2 linked regions of the Homo sapiens genome follow. The protein of the gene in region 2 purifies or fractionates together with the protein of the main gene of each other region. This does not show direct contact. Each region holds a gene or a part of one and is shown on either strand. Other genes may lie near its edges.

Region 1 (7,730 bases), on a different chromosome or scaffold from region 2:
CCGACTGCCCCCACCCTTGCAGCTGTCTGTAGCTATAGCCCAAGTATCAACCTCCTATATTTTTTTGTTTCATTGAAGATGACTGGTGCAAGGTCTCTACTGTCCTGAGGGTGTTCTCTGTGCCCAGGTCTGTGCCATCCAGAAAGGGTGTCCCCTGGGTGGGGCCCTTCCTGGCCCTGTTTGGTTCAGCAATAGGGCAACTGATACGGATCTAGCCCAGAGCTGGAGACCCTTCGGTGGTCAGATGGTAAGAGCATCTGATACTTGTGGGGTCAAAGCCGTGGACACCCCTGTGCCTACTGAGGCAGTCGTGGCAGTGTGTGAGGGGCTCCTGGTCGAGAGGGGAGATGGGGTGCTCAGAATCTCAGAGTTGGTGGGAGTGGCTCTGGAGCAGCCCACTCTGGCTTTTGCTTGACTTCTCCGTAAGTGTGGGTGTATGTGTGTGGTGCTGACCCCTAGAGAAAGGACCAGTAGGCAGCTGAGTCTTCTAGGCCTGGCCTCTGAGAACGTAGCGGTTACTGCCCGTGTGCCACCTTCAGTGAGCCTGCGGCAGCCCTGGAGAGTGGTCTGGCAGGCTGGGGGGATGGCACTGGCTGTTGGAATCTGTCCTGCTCACCCCAGGATTGCTGTGGAGCCTGAGACCCCCCTGCTAGGAGAGGGGGTTGAGATTTGAGCCTTTGACTCAACTCCTGCTGACCCAATATGAACCAGCCATGGAGGTCTGTGGTCGGCCTCCCCTAGAAGGAGTCAGAAGTGGTCTGGGGCCATATGTAGGGAGGAGGTGTGTAAAATCAGGGTTCTCGGGCAAGAAAAGATCTTACACTCTGGGGGTGAGACAGCTTCCCCTCTTTTCTTCCTCTTCCCACTTTGTCCTTTTCCAAGTAAGAGATAGAGTCACCCCATCTCCACTCCTGCCAAGTTCACTTCACTGCCCTTTACTGGCCTATTGCCTTTGCCCTGCACTGGGCCCAGGGAACCTCCCACTGTCCTCAGTGGGCGGGGCTACAGGTAGAATGTATTTTGAGGGTCCCAGGAGTTCATAATTGCAGGCCTTGCCTCAACACAGAGCCTGGTGTTTTGCAGAACACTTGCAGAGCCATTATCTCTGTGAGCCTTATGGCAGTTGTGGCTAGGCAGGGAAGGGACCACTTATCGCCCCACTTGTAGATGAGGACCCAAAGCCTCCCAGAGGTAGGTAGAGACATGCCCGGAAGCAGGAACAGAATCAGATCCATGTTCTCCAAATTCTAGCCCCCTTTCTCCCAAACTTATTCTGGACAGTTTGTCCTGTCCCTGATGATAGGCTTGGATCAGGGGTTGCAGGTCTAGGGGCCTGCGAACCAGCCCCCTGAGCAGCTGGGCAGCGGGGAAGCCTCAGTGACTGGCCCCTACCTAGACTGGGCCATTTCCCCAGCTGCCAGCCAGCTCCTACCCCAGCAAAGGCCCTGTCTCTCCTGAGGGATGCCATAATCAGGGCCCAGAGGACAGTGGTGAGCAACAAGGCCACTGCCAGAAGAGGCCAACCTGGGGCTGTGGGTGTGATGAAGAGCGCTGTTCCCCTCCTTTTTCTCCCCTCTTACTCTTTGGCCAGCCAGGCCCTGCCCACTCACTGTCCCCTAGGGCAGTGGATTTTAAGGAGGCTTGGCTCCTCCCTGTCGGCCTGCCCTGCCCAAGTCAGCCTACCCTGCTACTCCCCCTTAGGAGCCTCACATCTGGCTGGGTCTTCCCTGGCACTGTAGAGGTGGAGGCCCTCTTCAGTTCTGGAGTTCGTCTTATCTCCCAACTCTGATGCTCCTTCCCTTGGTTTCTGGGCTCCCTTGAACTCCCCTAGCTCCGTGCTCACGGCCATCTCAGGGTCTCCCCTGCTTGCAGCTGCACTTGGTACAGCCTGTGCCAGCCCCTGAGGGACCGGCTGCAGCTTCACTGGCAAACAGGCGGGCAAGGGGCACAGGGCTGCTGGCCGGAGCTGCCTGCACTCTGCAGGTAGGGTTCAGGCAGGGGCCGGGGTGCGCAGGGGACGGGGTCCTGGATCTGGGGCAGGCCCCTCCCTCTTCCCTTTGTCCAGCTTTGGGACCAGTCCTGGAGTATTGGGAAATGGGCGCAGAGACTTTAAGGCCGGCTACCTAGGCAGATCCTGTAATCCTTCCCTAAGCCAGGGTGGAGGGTGCTGGAGGGGAGCACTCCTTACAGCCGGCTGAGAGAGGCAGTTTGGGTGTGGAAAGCTTCTCACTGAGGAGCTGGGGCTGCTGAGCCCAGGGAGGGTCCTTCGGGGTAGGCTGGAAGCCTTGGCAGCCCCCATAGACCAGCAGCTTCACGGCCCTCTGGTGCCAGCCTCCTCGTGGTACAGATGGAAAGTCTAGTCTTGATGAAGAAAGACCCCTGGCTTCTGACACTCCCTTCCCCAGGGCCCTCTGTGGTGCCCCCGGTCCAGATCCTGGGGCCTGAGTGGCATAGACTGTTTGTGGCAGCTCCTTTTGGAGGGGCAGGCTAAGGCCAGGCCACATTTTGGCAGCCCTGGGGCCCTGGGGGACAGGGCGGGCCTCCAGGGAGGAGGTAGGGTTCCCTTGCCAACCAGGCCCTCCACTTCCTCTCCTCTTCCCTTGAGGGCTCGTCCCTAGGTCAGAGCTGAGCAGCAGCTGCGGCTTCTCTTGTGCTGCACAGGTCTAGGATGTCAGGCACAGGGCCCTGCCCCTTTGAGTGGAGAATCTGCTAGTCCAGGGGCGGGTCTGATCCTGGGTTGCCTGCCCTGGGAGCTGCAGGCTGGGGGTCCCTGGTGTGGCCGCCTGGTCCTTACCAAGCACCTGGTGTGTGTCTCTGAGGGTGTCTGTGTGCGTACGTGCATGTGTGTGCACACGTACACACGTGCACCTGCCTCTGGGAGGTAGTCACGTGGAGATTCTCATGGCCTGAGGGATCAGGCTCTAGTCTCATTTGTGGAGGTAATGAATCTACTTGTTCTAGGGGCAGACTCAGAATCCCCACCCCAAGCCTGGAATGGGTGAGGGGTCCCTGCGTTAGAGGTGAGGGTGAGCCCTTTGGGAGCCACACACACAGGCCTACTCCTCAGCTACTGAGGAGGGACTGCCCTCTTTCCCGACCCTGGGCTCTCTCGGGAGCTGGCCTAGGCAGGGCAGGGGCCCAGGGCTTTCAGGGGCTGCCCCTCCACCCTTTGACCCTGGCATCACTGTCTCTGCAGAGGCTCGGGGTGGTCTGGGGGCCCCTCCGCTGCAGTCTGCCCGATCCCTGCCGGGCCCCGCCCCCTGCCTCAAGCACTTCCCGCTCGACCTGCGCACGTCTATGGATGGCAAATGCAAGGAGATCGCCGAGGTATCACCTGGCACCACCCGCACCCTCACCCCGTGTCTCCATGCCCTGCCTCTGCTCCCCACACCCCTCACCTCAAGCTGTCCCCTCACCTCACGCTTGGCTGTCTCCTGATCCTCAGCCTCTCCCAGGTACCCCTGGTCCTGCTGCCCTCACCCCATCCCCAGACTCTGTAGGAGAGTGCCCGAGGGCGGAGGGCCAGCCATGCTGACCTTCCTTCCCTCCCCCCAGGAGCTGTTCACCCGCTCACTGGCTGAGAGCGAGCTCCGTAGTGCCCCGTATGAGTTCCCCGAGGAGAGCCCCATTGAACAGCTGGAGGAGCGGCGGCAGCGGCTGGAGCGGCAGATCAGCCAGGATGTCAAGTGAGCCCGGCAGGCAGCTGCTTAGTCTCCCTCCATACCCTTCCAGACCCTTTCAGAGCCCCTTTTCTGCCTCTTTCCCTCGCACCCTGCCTTGGGGGGTCTGCACAGGGAGCATAGAGTGGGCTTTGGAGTCGGGCTGCTGGGTTCTGTTCTGTCTTCTAGCCGCCGGTGTGGCTGGGTCATGTTGCTTAACTTATGGGTCTGCTTTCTCATCTCTAAAGTGAGTGAGAACAGCACAGGGTTCTGCAGCTCTGCCTTTGAGGATCACATGTGACAACATGTGCACAGCACCTAGTGCGGTGCTGGGACCTGGGAGCAAGGGCCGTCCCTCGGGATCTGCCTGACTTCTCACCCCTCTTGCCTCTAGGCTGGAGCCAGACATCCTGCTTCGGGCCAAGCAAGATTTCCTGAAGACGGACAGTGACTCGGACCTACAGTGAGGAGGGCAGAGGGGCACAGGGGATGCGGAGCTGCAGCCTGCCCTTCTGCCGGCTCTAAACCCCTCCCTTGAATGCACCCCCTGCAGGCTCTACAAGGAACAGGGTGAGGGGCAGGGTGACCGGAGCCTGCGGGAGCGTGATGTGCTGGAACGGGAGTTTCAGCGGGTCACCATCTCTGGGGAGGAGAAGTGTGGGGTAAGTATGGGGTGTATGTTGGGTGAGTCGCCATCACCTATGTCTTAGTGGGTTCCCCCAGCCTGGAGAGCTGGGGGTGGGGGCTGGAAAGGGCGTTTCTCTTTCCAGCAGCTGGAGGGGCGGAGGGGCAGAGGGGCTGCCTAGGAGCCACTTGATGTGCTGGACCAGGGTGATCTGAGTGTTCCTGGGGGTCAGGGCCTGTGGGAGGTGGGGATAGTTTGGGTTCTAAGATAAGGCCTTAGGGAGGAGGTCTCTGAGTCCAAGACTGAGGAGAGTGATCGCATATCCTCATCTCCAGGTGCCGTTCACAGACCTGCTGGATGCAGCCAAGAGTGTGGTGCGGGCGCTCTTCATCCGGGAGAAGTACATGGCCCTGTCCCTGCAGAGCTTCTGCCCCACCACCCGCCGCTACCTGCAGCAGCTGGCTGAAAAGCCTCTGGAGACCCGGACCTATGAACAGGGCCCCGACACCCCTGTGTCTGCTGGTGGGACTCCCCATCTCTGCCCCATGCCATGTGCCCTAGCCTCCTGGGCTTCTCAGCCTGGTGCCTGGGCACCTCTGCCCTGCCTGCCTCTCCCTACAACCCAGGCTCATTCCAACCTCTTGGGGTACAGGGGTGGAGGTTGGGCAGGAGCTGTCTGACCTACTGGGTCTTCAACATCTCTTGCCCTCTGTGGGGCCTTTGGGTTGGGCAGTGGGTGGCTTGGAAGAGCCCTGCTCTGACTTTACCCTCCTCACCCCTGCAGATGCCCCGGTGCACCCCCCTGCGCTGGAGCAGCACCCGTATGAGCACTGTGAGCCAAGCACCATGCCTGGGGACCTGGGCTTGGGTCTGCGCATGGTGCGGGGTGTGGTGCACGTCTACACCCGCAGGGAACCCGACGAGCAGTAAGAGGGGTGTGGTGCATGTTGGGGGGATGCAGCGTGGGAGGTTGCGTTGGCTTGGGAGAGGCCACAGGGCTCGGCTTGCTCTCCTCACCCAAGCTCCCCTCCATGCCAGTTGCTCAGAGGTGGAGCTGCCATACCCTGACCTGCAGGAATTTGTGGCTGACGTCAATGTGCTGATGGCCCTGATTATCAATGGCCCCATGTGAGTCCCCTGCCATCCCAGACACTTAGCTCCCCTCCCAGCCCAGATTCTCCAGCCCCAGTTCTGCCCCAGACTCCCATCACCTGGTGTCTTGCCCTTCCTAGTTGCTGAGCCCTCGACTTCCCCGCAGTCTACTTCCCTCTTGGCAGCCTCCATCCTTACCCTCCCACCTGCTCCCTCTGATCTGCTACCCAAGCCCTCCCCAGGTGCCTCCCTTCAGGGCCTAAGTCCCTGCCTTGTTCTCCTCATGCCCAGAAAGTCATTCTGCTACCGCCGGCTGCAGTACCTGAGCTCCAAGTTCCAGATGCATGTGCTACTCAATGAGATGAAGGAGCTGGCCGCCCAGAAGAAAGTGCCACACCGAGATTTCTACAACATCCGCAAGGTGGGCCCTCACCCCGTGGCCGTCTCCATGTCCTCATCCCACACCTCTGCCCAGCCTCCCCTTCAAGGGCCAGGCCCCCCACACAGCATCCAGTACAGAGGGTCCTTTCCCATTGCACTGCCCCAGGCCCCAGACCTTCCTGGCCTCTGGTGGATCAGCAGTGCCCTGTTCCATTCCAGGTGGACACCCACATCCATGCCTCGTCCTGCATGAACCAGAAGCATCTGCTGCGCTTCATCAAGCGGGCAATGAAGCGGCACCTGGAGGAGATCGTGCACGTGGAGCAGGGCCGTGAACAGACGCTGCGGGAGGTCTTTGAGAGCATGAATCTCACGGCCTACGACCTGAGTGTGGACACGCTGGATGTGCATGCGGTCTGTGCCAGTGGCGTGGGCTGTGGGACTGAGTCAGTCAGGGGACCAGGAGTCACGGGTGACCTGAGCCTTCCCATGTCCCCCAGGACAGGAACACTTTCCATCGCTTTGACAAGTTTAATGCCAAATACAACCCTATTGGGGAGTCCGTCCTCCGAGAGATCTTCATCAAGACGGACAACAGGGTATCTGGGAAGTACTTTGCTCACATCATCAAGGTAAGGAGGCAGCCTTCCCTGCCAAGCCTCGAGCCTGAGGATCTGGGGGCTTTTAGGGGGTGAGACTCAAGGAGGGTAGGCAGATGACCCCCTGAAGAGCTCTGACTCAGCTCACCTCATGTCTGACTCAGCTCACCTCATGTCTAGGAGGTGATGTCAGACCTGGAGGAGAGCAAATACCAGAATGCAGAGCTGCGGCTCTCCATTTACGGGCGCTCGAGGGATGAGTGGGACAAGCTGGCGCGCTGGGCCGTCATGCACCGCGTGCACTCCCCCAACGTGCGCTGGCTGGTGCAGGTGCCCCGCCTCTTGTGAGTGTCCCTGGAGTGGGAGGGGAACCTGCGGGGTCATATTCAAGGGGTCAGGGCCTGCCTCCTGCCCTCCTAGGATGGCTGAGCCTCCCTTGTCCCTGCCAACCCCTCTGAGTGCAAGGAAGGGCTTCCTGGTCCCATCCATGGTCTGTCCAGCCTGGCCCACCTGGGTATCCTTGCTTTCCCAATATGGTTCAGATGCGCCCCTGCGCTCTTGGGCCAAGCTCTGACCCTTGCTGGACCGCTGGGTTTCCTCCCACTGGCCCTGACTTGCACATACCTGCATGTTGTCTCACCTGCAGTGATGTGTACCGTACCAAGGGCCAGCTGGCCAACTTCCAGGAGATGCTGGAGAACATCTTCCTGCCACTGTTCGAGGCCACTGTGCACCCTGCCAGCCACCCGGAACTGCATCTCTTCTTAGAGCACGTGAGCAGGCAGCGCAGAGCTGGGTATGGGGAGGGCAGCCGGCTTCGCATCCAGCTGCAGCTCTGGTTCTGACCCCAGGGTTCTGTATTAGGTGGATGGTTTTGACAGCGTGGATGATGAGTCCAAGCCTGAAAACCATGTCTTCAACCTGGAGAGCCCCCTGCCTGAGGCGTGGGTGGAGGAGGACAACCCACCCTATGCCTACTACCTGTACTACACCTTTGCCAACATGGCCATGTTGAACCACCTGCGCAGGTGCCTGCACCACCCTGTGTCTGCTTGCTATGCCATCTCTCGCCCAACAAACCTCACTCTTGGCACCTTGGGCCAGGGCCACTAGACCTCTGACCCACCTGTTGCCTGGACTGGATGGGTTCTTTCTCTGCCCTTGGAGCTACATCTGTCACCCCTCACAGCCAGTAATCTACCCCTGTCCCCCTTATCCCAGGCCTGCATAGTTATTGGCTGGAGGACATATGCGTGCTGGGTGGGGGTCAGGGGCTCCGGTGAGCCCAGGTGATCCCAGGCTCAGGAGCTGACACTGTCTTCATGTCCCCCAGGCAGAGGGGCTTCCACACGTTTGTGCTGAGGCCACACTGTG
Region 2 (8,461 bases):
AGTGCCTGGCCACACTTTACATTTTATGTGTGCTTTTATACATGTTAATTTTTACATAAACTTTACATGGTATACAATAACTTTATTCCCATTTTACAGATGTGGAAACTGAGGTTCCTGGAGGTTAAATAACTAGAATTTAGCTATATTCTTTCTCTCTCTAGAATAAAATTATATAGAAAAATATACAGTTAATATTTATTGAGAGGCTATCATGTGTCAGGTACTATTCTAGGGACAAGAAAAGGTCCCTGCCTTCATGGAGCTTCCATTTAGTAGATGCACTACTGGGACTCAGGGAAGGGCTTTGAGGTCAGTTCCGGTGCTCTTCCCACCCTCTGTGTTCATTCATGTCACAGCTTCAGCAAAGGGTAGGAGCCACAGAAACACATTAAATCTCATAGACTTGTACACCAAAAAGAGTGACATTCACTATGTGTACATTATATATCATTTGTGTCATATGATTGTATATGTAATTTATTATAGGAATGTATGTAAAATACATGTAAAGCGTGGGAGATTTCATTTTAAAGATGCAGTAGAAAGCAGCAACTGACTTTTATCTCACAAGAGAGCCACAACCCTCATTTCACCTTTCAACAGGGGAACAAGAATGGGCCAGTATGTCATTAAGAGGAGACTGCTACAGAGGAACCTTAATGACCAGACCCTGATAGTAGAATGCTTAATGACCAGACCCTGATAGTAGAATGCTTATGTAAGTGTAAGATCTTAGCTACACTCCATTTGTAGGAGAAAGCGAACTACTTTTAGAAGGCGTGGAAAGAAATCAAAGATGCTCTCTGGGAATAAGCAAAAAGGAATCATCGCTAGGACAAATGCCGAGCACAGAGGTGAAGGCTGTCGCCTCAGGAGTCAGGTGCCCCGTGAGTGCACGCCTGAGCAGCTTCACCTCTCACTGGCTGGCTGTGACCTTGCATATGTGACTGGACCTCTCTGGACCCAGACTCTTCATCTGTAGAAGAGAGGTGGTAATAATTTTCACCTTGTAGAGTTAATATGAAGATTAAATGCTGCATTTAAAATTCTTAGAAGCACTTGTAAATACTAGCTGTATCCATTATTATCCCAGTATCCTATACTTTTACATGTACAGGGCTGCACAGTGAACACTGCAGCACAGAACAGAATGATATCCTTTGGAGGCATTGTAATCTCTCTATCATCAAACAAATTTCCAGTGATATTTGCTTTACTTCTCTTTCCAACAACTTCAGCAATAGGCAAGTGAGTTGATGCAGACATGTTATTCTAAAAGTCTAGTTAATTATGATATCATTATAATAGGAAGAGTTAGAATTCCCTCTCTATTTCATGCTAGCAAAATCTACATTTTCTAGGCTCATTTTGTCACGTGTATCTCACACACACACACACACACGTACAGGAGTTGTTACAAAGAAAAAGATTCTCATACGGTTAAAGTGTTGAAAGAGTTCTCAAGGGTTATCTAGTCCATCTAAGTTTGGTTAATGTTCAAAATCACTTGAGGAACTTTTAAAATGTAAAATTCTTTCACCATCAACCTAGAGATTCAGATTCGGTAGGATGAAGCTGGGAGACAGGACTGGGTGTTTCTTTTGTTTGTTTTGAGATGGAGTCTTGCTGTGTCGCCCAGGTTGGAGTGCAGTGGCATGATCTCGGCTCACTGCAACCTCTGCTTACTGGGTTCAAGCGATTCTCTTGCCTCAGCCTCCCGAGTAGCTGGTATTACAGATGCCTGCCACTGTGCCCGACTAATTTTTGTATTTGTAGTAGAGACGGGGTTTCACCATGTTGGCCAAGCTGATCTCGAACCCCTGACCTCAGGTGATCTACCCACCTTTGCCTCCCAAAGTGCTGGGATTACAGGCATGACTGGGTGTTCTTGAGAAGCTCCTCAGGTGGTTCTGCTCATAACTGAGCTTTTGTGCACTACTGATGCAGCTACACCTCCCTGACTGGCACTTGAATTGGTTCCTGCCTGAGTTACTCCTTCTATTCTCCCTTCTCTACACTCCATCACTTCCAGGAGAACATGAGCTCCAAAGTCTGCCAGCTGCTTTAACTTTCCTTTCAGAAGTCGCAGAGTGCAGCCTTCTTTGTAAATAAGGTCAAGGACTCACAACCCCCACATTTGCAAACTTTTCCAAAGCTGTCCTTGACAGAGTTCCAAGTCCTTGGTGTCCTGGTGGGGCTGTGTGAGAGTGCAAGTCAAGAAGACCTGACCTTGAATTCTGGCTCTATCACCCTGGGGCGAATAGTAGCTCCTACCTTCTAGGTTGTGTGAGAATTAAAAGAGATAATGCATATTAAAGGCAAACCACAGTACCTGGCTTATAGTAAGCACTCAACAAACCTTAGCTTGAACAAAACGAAGCAGCTTTAAAAAGCATCAGGAGAGCAGAGGAAAACCCCTTTCTCCATGTGCCAGTTTCTCCTTGGTCCCCTCCAGGTCTGAGACATCTTCCAGGGACTTTGCCAATGCTGGTTTTTCTTGGCGTGCTCTCAAGTGATGACTCTTAAATGTCTAACTTTAGGTGAGGTTTTTTTCTTGGTTGTTTTGTGTATATTTTTTAAGGTACGGTTTAAATGGTAAAAATTGTTTATGTGACTACAAAGGATATTTCATTCTGAGACTTGGAAGTATAGGTTAAATAGATGCCCCAAGTAGATTTTCAATTATTCAGCCTTTTCTTATTTAATTAACTTATTGATCGAGCGTCTTGTTTCTCCAAGTAGGAGCAGTGTCTCTTTCAGCAGGCAATTTTGCGTCTTAGAAGTTCAAGACCTCCAGAGACATAGCCAGCTTTTCTGCAGCTCTCTCAGCGGTGGGTCAGTCCTGCTGATGTGGGGATTTGGCCCACGGCACAGCGATCTGTGTGTGTGAACAATATTGGAAATTTCAACTGTGGGTTTGCCCTGGGGAAATACAAACAAGGAAAACTTAATGGGGCTCTAATTGGTGGGGCAATGTAGCGTAGAAGTTGTAGACAAGCCTGTCCATTAGAAAGCATAGAGCGATCTGAGAGCATAAACAATTTGGCCTGGCTGAAATGTGGGGGCTGGGTGCGAGAGTGGCAGAAGATGAAGCTAGAAAGGCTAGGTAGGCAATGACTAGATCCTGAATGGCTTAGGATCCCATGTTGAGTTTATTTTATTTTATTGAGACAGAGGCCTTGTTATGTTGGCCAGGCTAGGTTTTGAAATCCTGGCCTCAGGTTGTCCTCCCACCTCAGCCTTTTGAGTAGCTGGGACTACGGGCATGAGTCACCACACTTAGCTCCATGTTAAGGAGTTTAGATGTTGTTTTTAAGCTGACAAGAATCCTGCTTGTTTTTCTAAGCAGGAGAGTGACATGGTCAGATTTGCATTTTATGAGATTACTCTGATGTTAGTGCAGTGCTTCTAGAACTTCAGTGTGCATGAGAATCATCTGGCAATCTTGATAAAATGCAGGTTCTCATTCAGTAGGTCTGGGGTATGACCTCCATTTTTGCCTTTTGTAATAAACTCCCAGGTGATACTGATGATGCTTGTATGTGGTAATACTTTAATTACCGAGTAGAGTTAAGAATCACTTAAAGTTAAGTGTTTCTTAAACTTTAAGGGAATCACAATAACCTGGAGGGGTGGTTAAACCCAGAGTACTGGGCATAACCCCTGCAGTTTTTGATTCAGTTACTCTGGCTGGGGCCCTAACAGGTTCCCAGGTGATGCTGATGCTGGTGGTCTGGTGACCACATGGAGAACCACTGAAGTGAATCATTGATGGATGGACAGTAAGACCTAATGGGAGGGGCCAAGTCAGGAGGCTGTAGCTGGAGCCCTGGTGTAACAGGACCAGGGCTATACCTAAGGCAATACTACTGGGAATGGAAGAGAAAGGGCAGATTTTACTGCTAGGTGATATCAGCAGGGCTTGGTGACCGACCAGCTGTAGGGAGATAGGGAAGAGTGACATTGGAGGCCTGGTTCACTGAGCCAGTAGATCAGCAGGAACAGCAAGCTTAGGTTGGGCAGTGATTCATTCTAGAAATTCTGAATGTGCCAAAGAGAGTTGACCTCCACAGAAAAGGGTGCAGTCAGGAAGATAAGTGTCTGCATATGGTACCAACTCTGCTGAAGCAAATTTGCCATGTGACTGCCGGCAATATATCTTCATATGCTTCATTCTCTCTAACCACAAGATGAGGCTATTTTGCCTTTTCTGCTTCTAGGGATGAGGCAAGACTTGCAATGAAGCATGCAAAGCATATTAAACCCATACAAAGAAAGAGACATTTAATTACCAAGCTTAAGCTTCTGTCTTTTCCTCCCAGCCATCCAAAATTACATGACAACATGCCCACTATATTCTGGGAAGTAAAAATCTCAGCAAGAGCTCAAAGCTGTTTGCTGTCTTCTCATCATGTCCCTCCCTTGGTAGTTTATTTGATGAAGTTTTAAAAACACTTGAAATGTTTTACTAAAAAATTGTACATGACTCACCGGGACCTCTGTTCAAGATTTCATCAGGCAACATGGTTAGAAGGTCATGGTCATCATTCCTTGGGGTGCTTTGAAGGGTTTTCTTGGCTTTATGGTCCCTTGGACTTTGCTTATTAATTCTTGCCTCTCCATGAAGACTTTTCTTTAACTCCATTTGGGCCTGAAAATCATCAACTATAAATGATCAATGTTCTTCCCAAGCTACTTTCACCAGACTAGATCAACAGATCAGCCACTTTGCAAGTTGTGTGCTTATCTGTAGACATCTGCAGTCCTCTAACCAGAACATGGTTTTCTTTTTCCTATTAGAAGGTATGGGAACTTTATTTATTGACAGGCTTGTTAAGAGAAAGGTGAGTGCACCCAGTCTCAAAAAGGTATGGCTCAATTAAGATGAGGACCTTTACAAAAGTGTGTTTCTGTCAGCTAGCTGATATGATTGGAGTTCCAGAGAGCAGTAACTAAAGGCTCATTTCCTAGAGGGAGGAATTTGGAACATGACAGTTACAGGCATTACTGGTAAAGGGTTTTTTTGTTTGTTTGGTTGGTTGGTTGTTTTTTTTACAAGAGGTCTTTCTTGTTAGATAATTCTATGGCAAGAATTATAGAGAGAGGCCTAGGTATCAGAATAAAGAACAACTCACCCCCTCCTCCTTTCACTAAACCAAGAAAAATGATCTAGCCCCATTTTCCTATGTCCAGAATGTCATAGGAGCAAACTGTTTTTAAAAATGGAGACTTGCGACACAGATACACAGATACAAACTTAGAAAAGACTCAACAAGGTTATCAGCAGAAGGAATCTTCCTGATTCTTCTCAGCTTTAGTAGTTGAACCTTCAACCTCAATGACGAAATTTAAAATGCTAAGTAAAGACTGGCTATCTATGCTTGATATATTCATGTGGCAGGGCAGTGATTATGTGATGAAAATTTGGTAAATATGACACTCTTCTCGTATTTACCTCTTGTCTTTTACGGATCATTTCCAGCACTTGCATCTTATGCAAATATTGTCTGTTCTCAGAAGTATACATTGGAGTTTGCATTTTCTTTTCTAGTACCTGCTATGAAAGACAACACACTTGTTAGTATGGGGTAATTTGTTACTGACTCTGCAATTCACAAGTTTAGATCCTTTTTGAAACAGAGTCAGATCTTAATCAGTCATAACCTGTAGAGATATCTTGTGATGACAAAAGTGGACTATCGTGTGTCCCTGACAAGTCCTTTGTGTCACTATCAATGAATGAAGTGGCTCTTTGATGTGTATATATGTAGTTTTTTAGGTTGCTATAGAGTTTTGTAAACCTTAAATGGGAATATCTTTCCACATCTCATTTTTGGCAAGATATCACTTCCTTTGTAAACAGATGCTTATTACCACCTCTCCAGAATTGTGTTCTGGTTTGAGGAAACCTTTCTTTTTCTCCCTGCCTCTTTTACCATTGAGTAATTGGCTGGCTATGAAATGAGAGGGAAGCTGCTGAATGGTGAAATGGAACCTATTTCTATAGAGTGCATTTCCATATGCCAGCATAAGCCTTGGAGAATATTGCAGTTTAGGGAGGATTTGAAGTTGATTATTTGTGACTCTGAACATCTCCCCGCCAGTGCATCATAAACTCCAGTGGGACAGTGCAGACGGTTATTGAGGGCAGCCAGAGGTCAATATACCTTCATTTGTCATTTGCTGTTGCCAGGAAAGATGATGTGTTTGACAATACCTTTTGTGTTGCTGTGTGGATAGTGACTGTCAGCTGATGTGAACCTCAGGGAGGGGCCATCTCCACAGATGCTGTCAGCACCACAAACGTGGGCTTGAGGATGTGACAGCACCTGGACATCTTTGTCAAGTCAGCCAGCCACACAGCAGCACCTAGCAAGCTCCAAAACAAATTAGGAGTGGAAAGTGTTGAAAATCTGCTTCTACCTCTAAGCTTTCATTTCTATGTGAGGGGAGTTCTAGTCAACAGAACATTATAAGTGCATAGCAGGGAAAAGATACACAGAAGACATTTCCCAGGATTAATTTTTGGTGAGGTTGTGTCAAATAAGTCAGGAATAACTTGTAGATAAGATTTCTCCTGCAAACTGAGAATAAAAAGTTTTAAACTGAGGGGAGGAATGAAAGGGAGGACTTATGCTGAATTTTTCACAGATTTGAAAACTTCAGAATCACCAATTTCTAAGTAAAAGTCTTTTCTCATCTACATTGCCCTGGTTTTCAACACAAAGCAGAAAAGGGTGCAGAGCTCATGCAAGAGGTAATAGCCACTGCCAGTTGGAGGCATGCACAGAAGAGAATAAATAGCTTTGAAAAGTTCTCACTCTGAATGACTTAACAGTTTGATTTGTCTTTGAACTCCTCCATGCAGAGAGTGCATGAAAGGACCAGTGTGCTCCAGTGCCCCAATCCTGTGTCGCCCACCCCCAGTTCACCTCCCTGTCAGGTTACTGCTGCAGCTCACCTTTGCTTTGTGCATTGTCCTGGCTTCTCGCTGGCTCAGGAGTCTTCCTGAAGTAATTACTCGTGGCAAGTCAATGGGTTCAAGCTTCTAGAAGTTCAACGTTTAGAGCAGTCAGCATTCCTCATGCCATGAGATGATGAAACAGAAAAGCCAGACATTAAATTATCTTAACACTTTGCAAAAGCGGCACTTATTTCTGAGAGCATACAGGAAAGGTGATTCTAACAGCATTACAGTTATATTGGTACAAAGGGCTTTTCAACCTATCTGGGTTCTTTATTATTCTAGTGCACTGTCGACAGTGCCTTATTGATCTAAGTGTTGGTCAGAGAGTTAGGAGACTAAGATACTCTTCTGTCTGCATTAAGGGACCATGTCCAAAGTTATCAAACCACCAGGATCTTAGAATATTAGAGATAAAAGAGGCGCTAGGAATTTATTTTATTTCACACATCCCTTAGGTACCCAGCTGAACTATTCCAGCCCTTAGGGAAGCAATCTGTTTTTAAGATCTCTAGAGAAGCTCCTTAGTAGTAATCACTGGTGATTATGAGACACATTTAAAATGAAACTGCAGTGTGCTAACACATTTTAGAGATGTCCTTTTCTAGCAGGGGCTTGGCTTGATAGGGGAGATCATGTTGGCATTTCAGGGGGTCACTAAGACTGGGCAGCAATTCATGTCAACCGGTCTGCCTCCAGCCGGATCTTGATCACTGAGAAGTGATCAAGCAGGTTTGGGAGACAAAGTCTGGTCTCTTGACATTGACATGCAATGGGGAACGTGGAGGGCCACAGAGTTTATGTGTTCCTTCAGTGACTACTTAATGACTGCTACATGCCAGACATGGGGATGCAACGGTCACCAAAAGTGGATGTGGCCCCTCATGGAGCTTACAATCTATGCATAATAGATGTACATTTGCTTGTGTGATTATTCAAGTGATAATTACACTGCAGGGCAGAAAAAACCTGCAGGGCAGAAAAAATCTGCAGGGCAGAACTATGACACTACATAACTGAAGGACTCCACCTGAAAAACAGGGTGTGTTAGGGGTTGAATTGTGCCTCCCCACAAAATTCATATGTTGAAGCCCTAGCCCTCCATACCTCAGAATCGGAACTTATTTGGAAATAGGGTCATTGCAGATATAATTAGTTAAGATGAAGTCATGCTGGAGTAGGGCAAGCCCCTAATTCAATATGATAACGTCCTCATTAAAAAGGGGAAATCTGGACACAGACACACACACAGGCAGGACACGATGTGAAGATGAAGAGAGAGGTTGGGGCGATGGTTCTTCAAGCCAATGAACAGCACCCAAGAGTGCCAGAAAACTACCTAAAGCTAGGAGAGAGTCGTGGAACAGATCTTCCTCACAGGCCTCACAGGGAACCAACCCTATGGACACCTTGATCTCAGTCTTCTAGCAAACTAAGGCAGGAGGGAAAGGGCTAGGGAGGCAGTTCAAGAAAGTGCCTTAAGGTAGTACCTTT

The links.
Region 1: the proteins of CCDC198 (region 2) and AMPD2 purify together in Homo sapiens (affinity purification with mass spectrometry; 3 studies listed by BioGRID and IntAct, with this or other methods). This does not show direct contact.

What each region holds. Positions count from the first base shown.
Region 1 is NC_000001.11:109,622,107-109,629,836, forward strand, and holds part of AMPD2 (AMP deaminase 2), read left to right. Parts: intron 1-1,922; exon of another isoform or gene 1,923-1,983; intron 1,984-3,196; coding exon 3,197-3,327; intron 3,328-3,555; coding exon 3,556-3,686; intron 3,687-4,053; coding exon 4,054-4,122; intron 4,123-4,212; coding exon 4,213-4,321; intron 4,322-4,619; coding exon 4,620-4,806; intron 4,807-5,068; coding exon 5,069-5,210; intron 5,211-5,322; coding exon 5,323-5,412; intron 5,413-5,667; coding exon 5,668-5,797; intron 5,798-5,976; coding exon 5,977-6,171; intron 6,172-6,257; coding exon 6,258-6,389; intron 6,390-6,536; coding exon 6,537-6,700; intron 6,701-7,002; coding exon 7,003-7,129; intron 7,130-7,220; coding exon 7,221-7,384; intron 7,385-7,689; coding exon 7,690-7,730. UniProt on the Homo sapiens protein: AMP deaminase plays a critical role in energy metabolism. Catalyzes the deamination of AMP to IMP and plays an important role in the purine nucleotide cycle.
Region 2 is NC_000014.9:57,476,101-57,484,561, forward strand, and holds part of CCDC198 (factor associated with metabolism and energy), read right to left. Parts: intron 7,085-8,461; exon of another isoform or gene 7,052-7,084; coding exon 6,965-7,051; intron 5,561-6,964; coding exon 5,459-5,560; intron 4,655-5,458; coding exon 4,495-4,654; intron 2,926-4,494; coding exon of another isoform or gene 2,909-2,925; exon of another isoform or gene 2,882-2,908; coding exon of another isoform or gene 2,829-2,881; exon of another isoform or gene 2,679-2,828; intron 1-2,678. UniProt on the Homo sapiens protein: May be involved in tuning the metabolism, energy expenditure, and excretion processes.